Homo sapiens: one gene and its partner. The protein of the gene in region 2 purifies or fractionates together with the protein of the main gene of each other region. This does not show direct contact. Each region holds a gene or a part of one and is shown on either strand. Other genes may lie near its edges.

Region 1 (3,072 bases), on a different chromosome or scaffold from region 2:
ATCTTTTGAACCCAGGAGGTGGAGGTTGCAGTGAGCTGAGATCGCACCACTCCAGCCTGGGCGACAAAGTGAGACTCTGTCTCAAAAGAAATTCGGAGAGATTTAAAGTAACCTTTTATTTTTTGAGACAGAGTCCCGCTCTGTCACCCAGGCTGGAGTACAGTGGTGCAATCTCGGCTCACTGCAACCTCCGCCTCCCGAGATCAAGTGATTCTCCTGCCTCAGCCTCCCAAGTAGCTGGGATTACAGGCATGCACCACCATGCCCTGCTAATTTTTATATTTTTAGTAAGAGACGGGGTTTAGCCATGTTGGCCAGGCTAGTCTCGAATGCCTGACCTCAGGTGATGCACCCATCTTGACCTCCCACAGTGCTGTGATTACAGGCGTGAGCTACCACGCCCAGCCTAAACTAACCTTTTACAAAGATCTAATCTTCCATCTCATTTTTGTGCTTAGACTTTTGAAATCTTTTAATTCAAGAAGTCCAGGAGTCCTGAGGAAAAAAAATGACAATGTGCTTTTATTTTTTTTCTTGTTAAAAAAAAACAACATTGGTAAATCGTTTTCATTAAATAGACCTTTGTGATTTTACTGATTTACATGAGTGGCACTAAATTACATGATTTATAAGGCTTGACACAGGAAGGATACACTGAGGTATATGGTAAGAAAAGGGATATGAATACTAGAGAAATGTTAAATTGATAACTAAGGCACACTTTCGGATGTGAATCATAAATCTACCACTGTGGCTAGAACAGCCTATATGTACATGGATTCTGAAAGACATGATCAGTTGCTGGTAAAAGTAGAGAGGGCCTGGGCTTCTGCCAGTCCCCTGGTACTTCCCACACCACTTCAGAGAAAAAGCATCATGACACAAGCACAGTAGATGGTAGAGGCCCCCAGCACTGAGTCAGGTGAAGCTACATGGTTCGCTGTTTAGTTACGTTTCCAGTACTTGGTTTAATTTCACAGTGAGGGAGTCGGTTGGTGATCTCTAAGAAATCCCCAAGCACCTGGTGTTGGGAAAGTCCCTCAAATAAAGAAGTGTTCTTTTCTTTTTTTTTCCTCTCTCTCTCTTTCTATTTATTTATTTTTTGAGATGGAGTCTTGCTCTGTCACCCAGACTGGAGTGCAGTGGCAGGATCTCAGCTCACTGCAACCTCCACCTCCTGGGTTCAAGCGATTCTCCTGCCTCAGCCTCCCGAATAGCTGGGATTACAGACACCCACCACCACGCCCAGCTAATTTTTGTATTTTTAGTAGAGACGGGGTTTCACTATGTTTTGTCAGGCTGGTCTCGAACTCCCAACCTCAGGTGATCCACCCATCTCAGCCTCCCAAAGTGCTGAGATTACAGGCGCAAGCCGCAGCGCCCAGCCAAGAAATGTTCTTTAAACATCACAAATAAACATACTGCATCAGGGACTTGTAGGGACAAGACTGATTAACCAGGGGCTGAAATCCCCATATCAGAAACCCCAGACAGTTAAAAATAGTAAGATATCACTGTAAGAACAATTTAAAGAAAAACAAGTTTACGGCAAAACAGACTACAAATCAATTTCATTATAACTAAAACTCCTTAATTTAAAAATACAGTACTAGAAGATCATCCACCCAGAGATTTGTATTTAGTAGGACCTAGATTTGCTAGTGTTGGGGAGACACTTCATACAGTGACTGGAAAGCAGCACCAGAGATTACATAAAATGAAAATATTAGTACTGCCACAGGACTTTCAAAAAGGAGGGGGAAAATTAATGAAAGTGACATGCATCAAACAAATCAAGAGGCAGTGTTGAGGTCATCTCCACGGAGCTGTAAACTCAGAAGTGTTTCCTGGTCATATATGGTCAATTAGGGTCAAGTCTGAAATCATCTAGATAATGACCTAGTTTTCCAGCTCACTCAGAGCTAAAATCCATAACACTATCATACTTTCCTTTTAATTTATGAGATGGAGTCTTGCTCTGTCGCCCAGGTTGGAGTACAGTGGCGCCATTTCGGCTCACTGCAACCTCTGCCTTCCAGGTTCAAGCAATTCTCCTGCCTCAGCCTCCGGAGTAGCTGAGACTACAAGCGCATGCCACCACACCCAACTAATTTTCATATTTTTAGTAGAAACGGCGTTTCACCACGTTGACCAGGCTGGTCTTGAACTCCTGACCTCAGGTGATCCAGCCGCCTAAGCCTCCCAAAGTGCTGGGATTACAGGCGTGAGCCACTGCACCCAGCCATCACACTTTCTTTTTTTGTTATTGTTTTTCTTTTGTTGTTTTCCTATTTCTACCATCACACCTTCAAGGATAAATTTGCTGGTTGCATTCACATATTCATAACCAGTTCCCCTGGTTATTCCACCTATTGCAGATTAAATCACGTATATCAATCCCAACATCTTAGAGGAATACAGTCTTTTCATGTTACCCAACAGAGGGGTTGAGAGAGTGGAGGAAGGAGGCCTCTTTTAATGGGTTTTTTTTTTTTTTTTTTTGAAACGCAGTCTTGCTCTGTCACCCAGGCTGGACAGCAATGGTGTGATCCTGGCTCACTGCAACCTCCGCCTCCCAGATTCAAGCGATTCTCTTGCCTCAGCCTCCCAGGAAGCTGGGATCACAGGTGCCCACCACCACACCCGGCTATTTTTTGTATTTTTAGTAGAGGCGGGGTTTCACCGTGTTGGCCAGGCTGGTCTCGAACTCCTGACCTCAGGTGATCCACCAGCCTTGGCCTCCCAAAGTGCTGGGATTACAGGCATGTGCCACCCCACCCGGCCTTAATGGCCATTTTCTTAAAGAGAAATAGTGTTTCTTCAAAAGTCATCATCAAGCGAAGGTCTTGGCGAGGATATCTTCATGCTGGTGCAAGTGAACTGTGCCAATTCCTACAGCGGGTACTGGCAAAGGGGGCCGGCCCACCAGACGGAGCTATAAGTGCAGCAGAGAAGAAATAAAATGACATTTTGACTAGATCAGAGCTCTGCTTAGTTCCAACAAGACAGTGCATGTATTTCTCTTAGCTTGTTTAACCATAAATCACCTCTTTCAAATAATGAGTTACGCAG
Region 2 (7,715 bases):
CCACACAAAACTCCCTGCTTTGCTTGGGCAAGTTAATTTCCCCATCAGGGCCTCAGCTTCTCCATTCATACAATGAAAGGCCTGTGAGTTTCTCTAACACTAACTCCAGGTAATCCCATTAAATTTGCTGTCTGAGTAGCAGAGGACAGAGAGAAAGCTATATTACATTTTTCCTTCCGAAGGGGGTCTGTGTATGTAAAACAAACTGAAAAACATGTCATATTTAAGAATCACCAAGCTCACTTTCATTTTAATTCAACAGCATTTATTTAATGAACATTGCTATGTGTCTACTCTTATGTATATAACGATAAGAAATCTTCTTAATCTAGAGAAACGGCATTGCTACTCTTGGGGAATTTGCTTTTATTTACAAATGTAGACCCAAGTGCTGGGTTTAACTATGACTGGTATAATAACGATGGTGACAATAATTAAATCATAGCTACAAATTACCCAGCACTAACTACTTGGGCATTGTGCTAAATGGCGCACACTTGTGATCTAATTTAATCCTCAAAAACAACTCTAAGAAATGAGCAATATTATCCTTTCATCATGGGAGCAAATAAGATTCCAAGAAATTGAATAACTTGTTGAAGACCATAACAAAGGACAGGCAAGGATTTGAAAAAAATCTGTAAACTCTAGAACAGGGCTCCAAATTGCAAAGCTACACTATCCACTAACAAAGTGAAAGCACTCGGATGGGTTTCTATTATTAAACTTGAGAACGGTCTTCTCTTGCTCATCAAAAGCACTTCTGATGCAAGTAAATAAAACTTACCCCAAGCCTGGAGACCCAGAATGAAGAAGGCAAGAAGCCATGGCAGCGTCCCCATGTGGTCCCAGGACTCTGACCGGGAGAGTGTGGACGGCAGCCCTGGAAGAGAGGCTAACAGTTAACACAACCATGCTAACTCTGCAAGTGGAGCACCCACCTACTATGTGGCACCACTGTCTGCCTCCCCTACCATCCTGTGGCTTCCTGAGGGCCAGCACCTGGCTCAGGCTTCTCGGGGCCCCTTAAACACATCAGGTTCCCAATAAATGTGAGGGCACTAATGGCTATGTCTAGCCACCGACTCCCCACCCACCTCCTGTTGCCCTGGGCAACTCCTGGTTCCTCATAGAAGCGCAGTGCCTGATCTTAGGCCTTTCAGGGTAGAAAATAACAATTTCTAAAATCCTCAAGGTAGCTGTTATGAAAAAACACTGTGTATTTATTTTCATATCTAGTGGTGCAATTTCATATTTGATTCAATTTTTATAGGTAAGAACATTGAGGCTCAGATGGAGTGAACTACAAGCAGAAGCAGGCTTGGCTTCGCCCCCTGCACCATTTGAGAGTCCCAGGTATGTAAAGTCATTCAATTCAGTCATCTACTCTGCAAAGATCCCTGACAGTTGTTCGACTAACCTCTTCTTTAGTGAGAATCATAATAACAGCTACCACTTACTGACTGCATTCTGTGTTCCAAGGTTTTTGCTGAGGACTCCATGGATATTCACTAAGTAGTCTCACAATGACCTATGAGACCCGCACTTATCATCAGAACACTGGGCCTCAGAGAGTTTGAGTCACTTGTCCTAAGTTTCCCAGATAATAGGGTCAGAGCCAGATTCATACCCAGGTCTGTCTGACTCCAGAGCCTCTGCCTGAAACTTCACAACCTGTTTGAGTTTCTGATGGACGTTCTCAATGTGGGCCCAAGAGGTTGAACTATAGGATCACTATAGTCTTTTCCAGCTCCAGGAATCTTTCCTGCTCTTTCAGGTAGAAGTGAATTGCTTACTCATACTCAGTCAGACTGAAACTTTAGCTGTATGAGCTACCACCCAAAACATCAACTTTCCCCCCAATTTTCCTACTGAGAAAATATAAAGTGGAGTTTGAAACCAAATGGGATAGATCATTGCCCTCCAGGGTTTTTAAACTGCAATCAGCAGTCCCCAAATGGAAAATTTTTAAAACCATGTCTTAAGAGTAGAACATGTGGAAGCCTCCTGGGTCAGGACAAGCAACCACTTAGCAGATAACACCCAGGATTCCATTCATTCAGGAAAACTGCAGTGAAGACAAAATGAGCTAATTACAAATGAGGCAGGCACCTAATAAATATAAGGAAAAATGTTCAGCCTCCCTCGTTAGTTAAATGAGAGGTAAGGATTCACTTTCCCAAGATTGAAGGCCTGTTAGGAGCTGGCCTCCTGCAAAGCTACTGGAAGCCACTATCAATTCTGGTTTGCACCCTGGTCACTTAATCACTGTGCTTCCACAACCATGAAACGTCAGTATGGCAAATCCTGCCCCAAGCTGGTCATATCATACATCCAAAATATCAAGGCTTCAGCCCAGTCCCTGACCTTGCCAGAGACAGAACTGATAATGTCTCCAATCCACACCATGAACTGCAAACACTAAGCTGGTAGGATAAGCTAGAGCCAAGGATTTACCACCTTGGCTCACATTGCTGTGCATCCTGTATACTGAAAGAAACATTAGACCAGGAGACAAGTGAGACATAATAGATAAGAATTTAGGGCTCTACAGAAAAGGAAGAAATTGGGTAGAGGTAACCTCAGAACCCACAGCCTTGCCAAGAAAGATCCAGCAGTGGTGAAACCAAACTCATTTAGAAGAATTTAGAATGAAGAAAATTTTCTTATTTGGAGAAAGAGTTCCAAAAAACGAGATCAGGGGAGCTTTCCCTACCATGTACACATTTTAACCCTATAGACTTCCGTCCCATTGCTGAATGAAGACTTCTAAAGAAATACACACACACACACACACACACACTCAAACTCACAGATACCTGTGGGTTCTGTGCTGTTCCAGCCCAGCAGGTCAGGGTGCAGTCGGCTCGCCCCTGATTGGCCAGCAGCTCCTTCCCTTCCAGACTTGGCCTCCAGGACCTGCCCTTCTTCTCCAGCTGGTGCCTCCTCAGGCCTTCACTCCCCCTGGCCCTAGAGGGCACTCCCTCCCTGGGAATGGAGCACTTGGGCTCTGGCTTCCCAGAGAGAAGAGGAGAGCCCAGGATCCCTAACAAAAGATGGAAGAGAAGAGAAAGGCAGAGGGCTGAGGCTCCAAGCCAGCTCTGTTTACAGCACCCAGAGAAACTTAAGTGGGAACAGACCCAGGCTGAGAGCACCTGGGGACCCGCCCTGTGAATAAGCCCAGGTAGCTCCTCCCTGGGAAAGGGTGTGATTGCCCAACACTCCCTGAGTTCCTTCCTCATCCCCAGCCCTTATGTCTTGTAGACTGGGGTCCCGGGGGTCCTGTCCCTGACATCTGGGAACTTCCTACCAATGAAGATCTATCTGTTCCAGGTTCCACTGGAGTCACCAGCAGGGGCAGGAGGAAGGGACAGAAATTGAAAAGCACATTCCCAGGAGGCAGCTAGCAATGTGTCATCACTAGAACTTATTCTGACCCTGTAGCTATCATGCCCATTCATCCACCACTTCATCTCAACTTCAAACTCTTCCCTTGAAACAAACCAAGGCTCTCCCCTCCTCACGCATTCCTGACAGTGGCCCTCAATCCTCAACTCTGGTCTCCAAGAATCCCTGTCTCTTCTCTGAAGAGGTTGATGCATAAGACTTTACAGTCAGGCTCAGCCAAGGGTACCTGAGCTGCAGCCCCCTGGATGGGGAATGCTCAGGCGAGAGGTCTTGGAAAGTACCATGCACCCTTTAGAAGATACTTGGATACCCACTCTGTTCTATACTCTGATCAGCCCAAACCACACTTCAGGGACAAAAGCTGAGGAGACCTCTCCTAGACCCCACAGCCTCACATGGCTGCCAGCATCTGAGGGAGACATGCTGAGTGACCTCCATTTTCCATAGGGTGGGGAATCTTGGGTGAGGACCTCAGAGACAGACATCTAGGAAGGGGACCGGGAATTATAGTTGGTGACAATGACAGACACTATGAGTCTGAAATTTTTATTTATGATTTTGGATCTTTTGCAATCATGATTAAGTCCTTAAAATGAAAATGGTTTATAAGCTCATCTTTAGAACAGCAAGTTAGGGAGAACTGAGAGACTGTCTCACTCTAAGACCAGACATGGAAGAGAAGAAACCCAAGTGATAAAGGGGGCAGTGACAGCCCACAAAAGGAAAGGAAAATGGGTAGGATCCTGCAGTCCCCAACTGGAGATCGAAGGACACCAAGGGATTAGCTGTCAGAAAGTCTGAAGCAAGACCACTGTTACCCAAATGGTATTTTCATTAAAATTAGAGAAAGTGTTCCTTCCACAGGTAAAAGTTATAGCTAATATGTTAATGCTAATGAAAGCAATTAGGATAAACAGCTACTTTGTATAAATTATGTAAATTGAATTATTAAACAAAATAGCACTTTGAATTTTTAATCACAATAATTAGGAACTCGAAGTCACTCACATATAATTTTTTTTAGTTATATTTTAAGTTCTGGGTTACATGTGCACAACATGCGGGTTTGTTACATAGGTATACATGTGCCATGTTGGTTTGCTGCACCCATCAACTCGTCATTATATTAGGTATTTCTCCTAATGCTATCCCTCCCCCAGCCCCCAACCCCCTGACAGGCCCCAATATGTGATGTTCTCCTCCCTGTGTCCATGTGTTCTCATTGTTCAACTCCCACTTATGAGTGAGAACATGCAGTGTTTGGTTTTCTGTCCTTGTGATAGTTTGCTGAGAATGATGGCTTCCTTCATCCATCATTGGATGAATGATGGATGGACCTTCATCCATGTCCCCACAAAGGACATGAACTCTTCCTTTTTTATGGCTGCATAGTATTCCTTGGTGTATATGTGCCACATTTTCTTTATCCAGTCTATTATTGATGGACATTTGGGTTGGTTCCAAGTCTTTGCTATTGTGAATAGTGCTGCAATAAACATATGTGTGCATGTGTCTTTATAGCAGCATGATTTATAATCCTTTGGGTATATACCCAGTAATGTGATGGCTCAGTCAAATGGTATTTCTAGTTCTAGATCCTTGAGGAATTGCCACACTGTCTTCCACAATGGTTGAACTAATTTACACTCCCACCAACAGTGTAAAAGTGTTCCTATTTCTCCACATCCTCTCCAGCATCTGTTGTTTCCTGACTTTTTAATGATCACTATTCTAATTGGCGTGAGATGGTATCTAATTGTAGTTTTGATTTGCATTTCTCTAATGACCAGTGATGATGAAGATTTTTTCATGTGTCTTTTGGCTGCATAAATGTCTTCTTTTGAGAAGTGTCTGTTCATATCCTTTGCCCACTTTATGATGGGGTTGTTTGTTTTTTCTTGTAAATTTGTTTAAGTTCTTTGTAGATTCTGGATATTAGCCCTTTGTCAGATGGATAGATTGTAAAAATTTTCTCCCATTCTGTAGGTTGCCTGTTCACTCTGCTGATAGTTTATTTTGCTGTGCAGAAGCTCTTTAGTTTAATTAGATCCCATTTGTCGATTTTGGCTTTTGTTGCCATTGCTTTTGGTATTTTAGTCATAAAGTATTTGCCCATGCCTATGTCCTGAATGGTATTGCCTAGGTTTTCCTCTGGAGTTTTTATGGTTTTAGGTCTTACATTTAAGTCTTTAATCCATCTGATTTAATTTTTGTATAAGGTGTAAGGAAGGGATCCAGTTTCAGCTTTCTATATGGCTAGCCAGTTTTCCCAGCACCACTTATTAAATAGGGAATCCTTTCCCCATTTCTTGTTTTTGTCAGGTTTGTCAAAAATCAGATGGTTGTAGATGTGTGGTGTTATTTCTGAAGGCTCTGTTCTGTTCCATTGGTCTATATCTCTGTTTTGGTACAAGTACCATGCTGTTTTGGTTACTGTAGCCTTGTAGTATAGTTTGAAGTCAGGTAGCATGATGCCTCCGGCTTTGTTCATTTTGCTTAGGATTGTCTTGGCTATGAGGGCTCTTTTTTGGTTCCACATGAACTTTAAAGTAGTTTTCTCCAATTCTGTGAAGAAAGTCAGTGGTAGCTTGATAGCATTGAATCTATAAATTACTTTGGGCAGTATGGCCATTTTCATGATATTGATTCCTTCTATCCATGAGCATGGAATGTTCTTCCATTTGTTTGTGTCCTCTTTTATTTCATTGAGCAGTGGTTTGTAGTTCTCCTTGAAGAGGTCCTTCACATCCCTTATAAGTTGGATTCCTAGGTATTTTATTCCCTTTGTAGCAATAGTGAATGGGAGTTCACTCATGATTTGGCTCTCTGTCTTTTATTGGTGTATAGGAATGCTTGTGATTTTTTCACATTGATTTTGTATCCTGAGACTTTGCTGAAGTTGCTTATCAGCTTAAGGAGATTTTGGGCTGAGACAAGGGGTTTTCTAAATGTACAATCATGTCATCTGCAAACAGGGACAATTTGACTTCCTCTTTTCCTAATTGAGTACACTTTATTTCTTTCTCTTGCATGATTGCCCTGGCCAGAACTTCCAGTACTATGTAGAATAGGAGTGGTGAGAGAGGGCATCCTTGTCTTGTGCTGGTTTTCAAGGGGAATGCTTCCAGCTTTTGCCCATTCAGTATGATATTGGCTGTGGGCTTGTCATAAGCAGCTCTTATTATTTTGAGATACGTTCCATCAATACCTAGTTTATTGAGAGTTTTTAGCATGAAGGGCTGTTGAATTTTGTCGAAGGCCTTTTCTGCGTCTATTGAGATAATCATGTGGTTTTTGTCATTGGTTCTGTTTACGTGATGGATTACATTTATTGATTTGCATATGTTGAACCAGCCTGGCATCCCAGGGATGAAGCCGACTTCGTTGTGGTGGATAAGCTTTTTGATGTGCTGCTGGATTCGGCTTGCCAGTATTTCATTGAGGATTTTCGCATTGATGTTCATCAAAGACATTGGCCTAAAATTCTCTTTTTTGTTGTGTCTCTGCCAGACATTGATGTCAGGATGGTGCTGGCCTCATAGAATGAGTTATGGAGGATTCCCTCTTTTTCTATTGATTGGAATAGTTTCAGAAGGAATGGTACCAGCTCCTCTTTGTACCTCTGGTAGAATTTGGCTGTGAATCTGTCTGGTTCTGGACTTTTTTTGGTTGGTAGGCTATTAATTATTGCCTCAATTTCAGAACCTGTTATTGGTCTATTCAGAGATTCAATTTTTTCCTGGTTTAGTCTTGGGAGGGTGTATGTGTCCAGGAATTTATCCATTTCTTCTAGATTTTCTAATTTATTTGCGTAGAGGTGTTTGTAGTATTCTCTGATGGTAGTTTGTATTTCTGTGGGATCGGTGGGGATATCCCCTTTATTATTTTTTAGTGCACCTATTTGATTCTTCTCTCTTTTCTTCTTTGTCTTGCTAGCAGTCTATCAATTTTGTTGATCTTTTCAAAAAACCAGTTCCTGGATTCATTGATTTTTTGAAGGGTTTTTTGTGTCCCTATCTCCTTCAGTTCTGCTCTGATCTTAGTTATTCTTGTCTTCTGCTAGCTTTTAAATGTGTTTGCTCTTGCTTCTCTAGTTCTTTTAATTATGATGTTAGGGTGTCGATTTTAGATCTTTCCTGCTTTCTCTTGTGGTCATTTAGTGCTATAAATTTCCCTCTGCACACTGCTTTAAATGTGTCCCAGACATTCTGGTACATTGTGTCTTTGTTCTCATTGGTTTCAAAGAACATCTTTATTTCTGCCTTCATTTCGTTGTTGACCCAGTAGTCATTCAGGAGCAGGTTGTT

The links.
Region 1: the proteins of PGLYRP3 (region 2) and DHTKD1 purify together in Homo sapiens (affinity purification with mass spectrometry; 3 studies listed by BioGRID and IntAct, with this or other methods). This does not show direct contact.

The regions. Positions count from the first base shown.
Region 1 is NC_000010.11:12,120,650-12,123,721, reverse strand, and holds the end of DHTKD1 (2-oxoadipate dehydrogenase complex component E1), read right to left. Parts: intron 2,936-3,072; coding exon 2,834-2,935; 3' UTR 501-2,833; downstream 1-500. UniProt on the Homo sapiens protein: 2-oxoadipate dehydrogenase (E1a) component of the 2-oxoadipate dehydrogenase complex (OADHC). Participates in the first step, rate limiting for the overall conversion of 2-oxoadipate (alpha-ketoadipate) to glutaryl-CoA and CO(2) catalyzed by the whole OADHC.
Region 2 is NC_000001.11:153,309,824-153,317,538, forward strand, and holds the start of PGLYRP3 (peptidoglycan recognition protein 3 precursor), read right to left. Parts: upstream 3,130-7,715; 5' UTR 2,820-3,129; intron 884-2,819; 5' UTR 843-883; coding exon 788-842; intron 1-787. UniProt on the Homo sapiens protein: Pattern receptor that binds to murein peptidoglycans (PGN) of Gram-positive bacteria. Has bactericidal activity towards Gram-positive bacteria. May kill Gram-positive bacteria by interfering with peptidoglycan biosynthesis.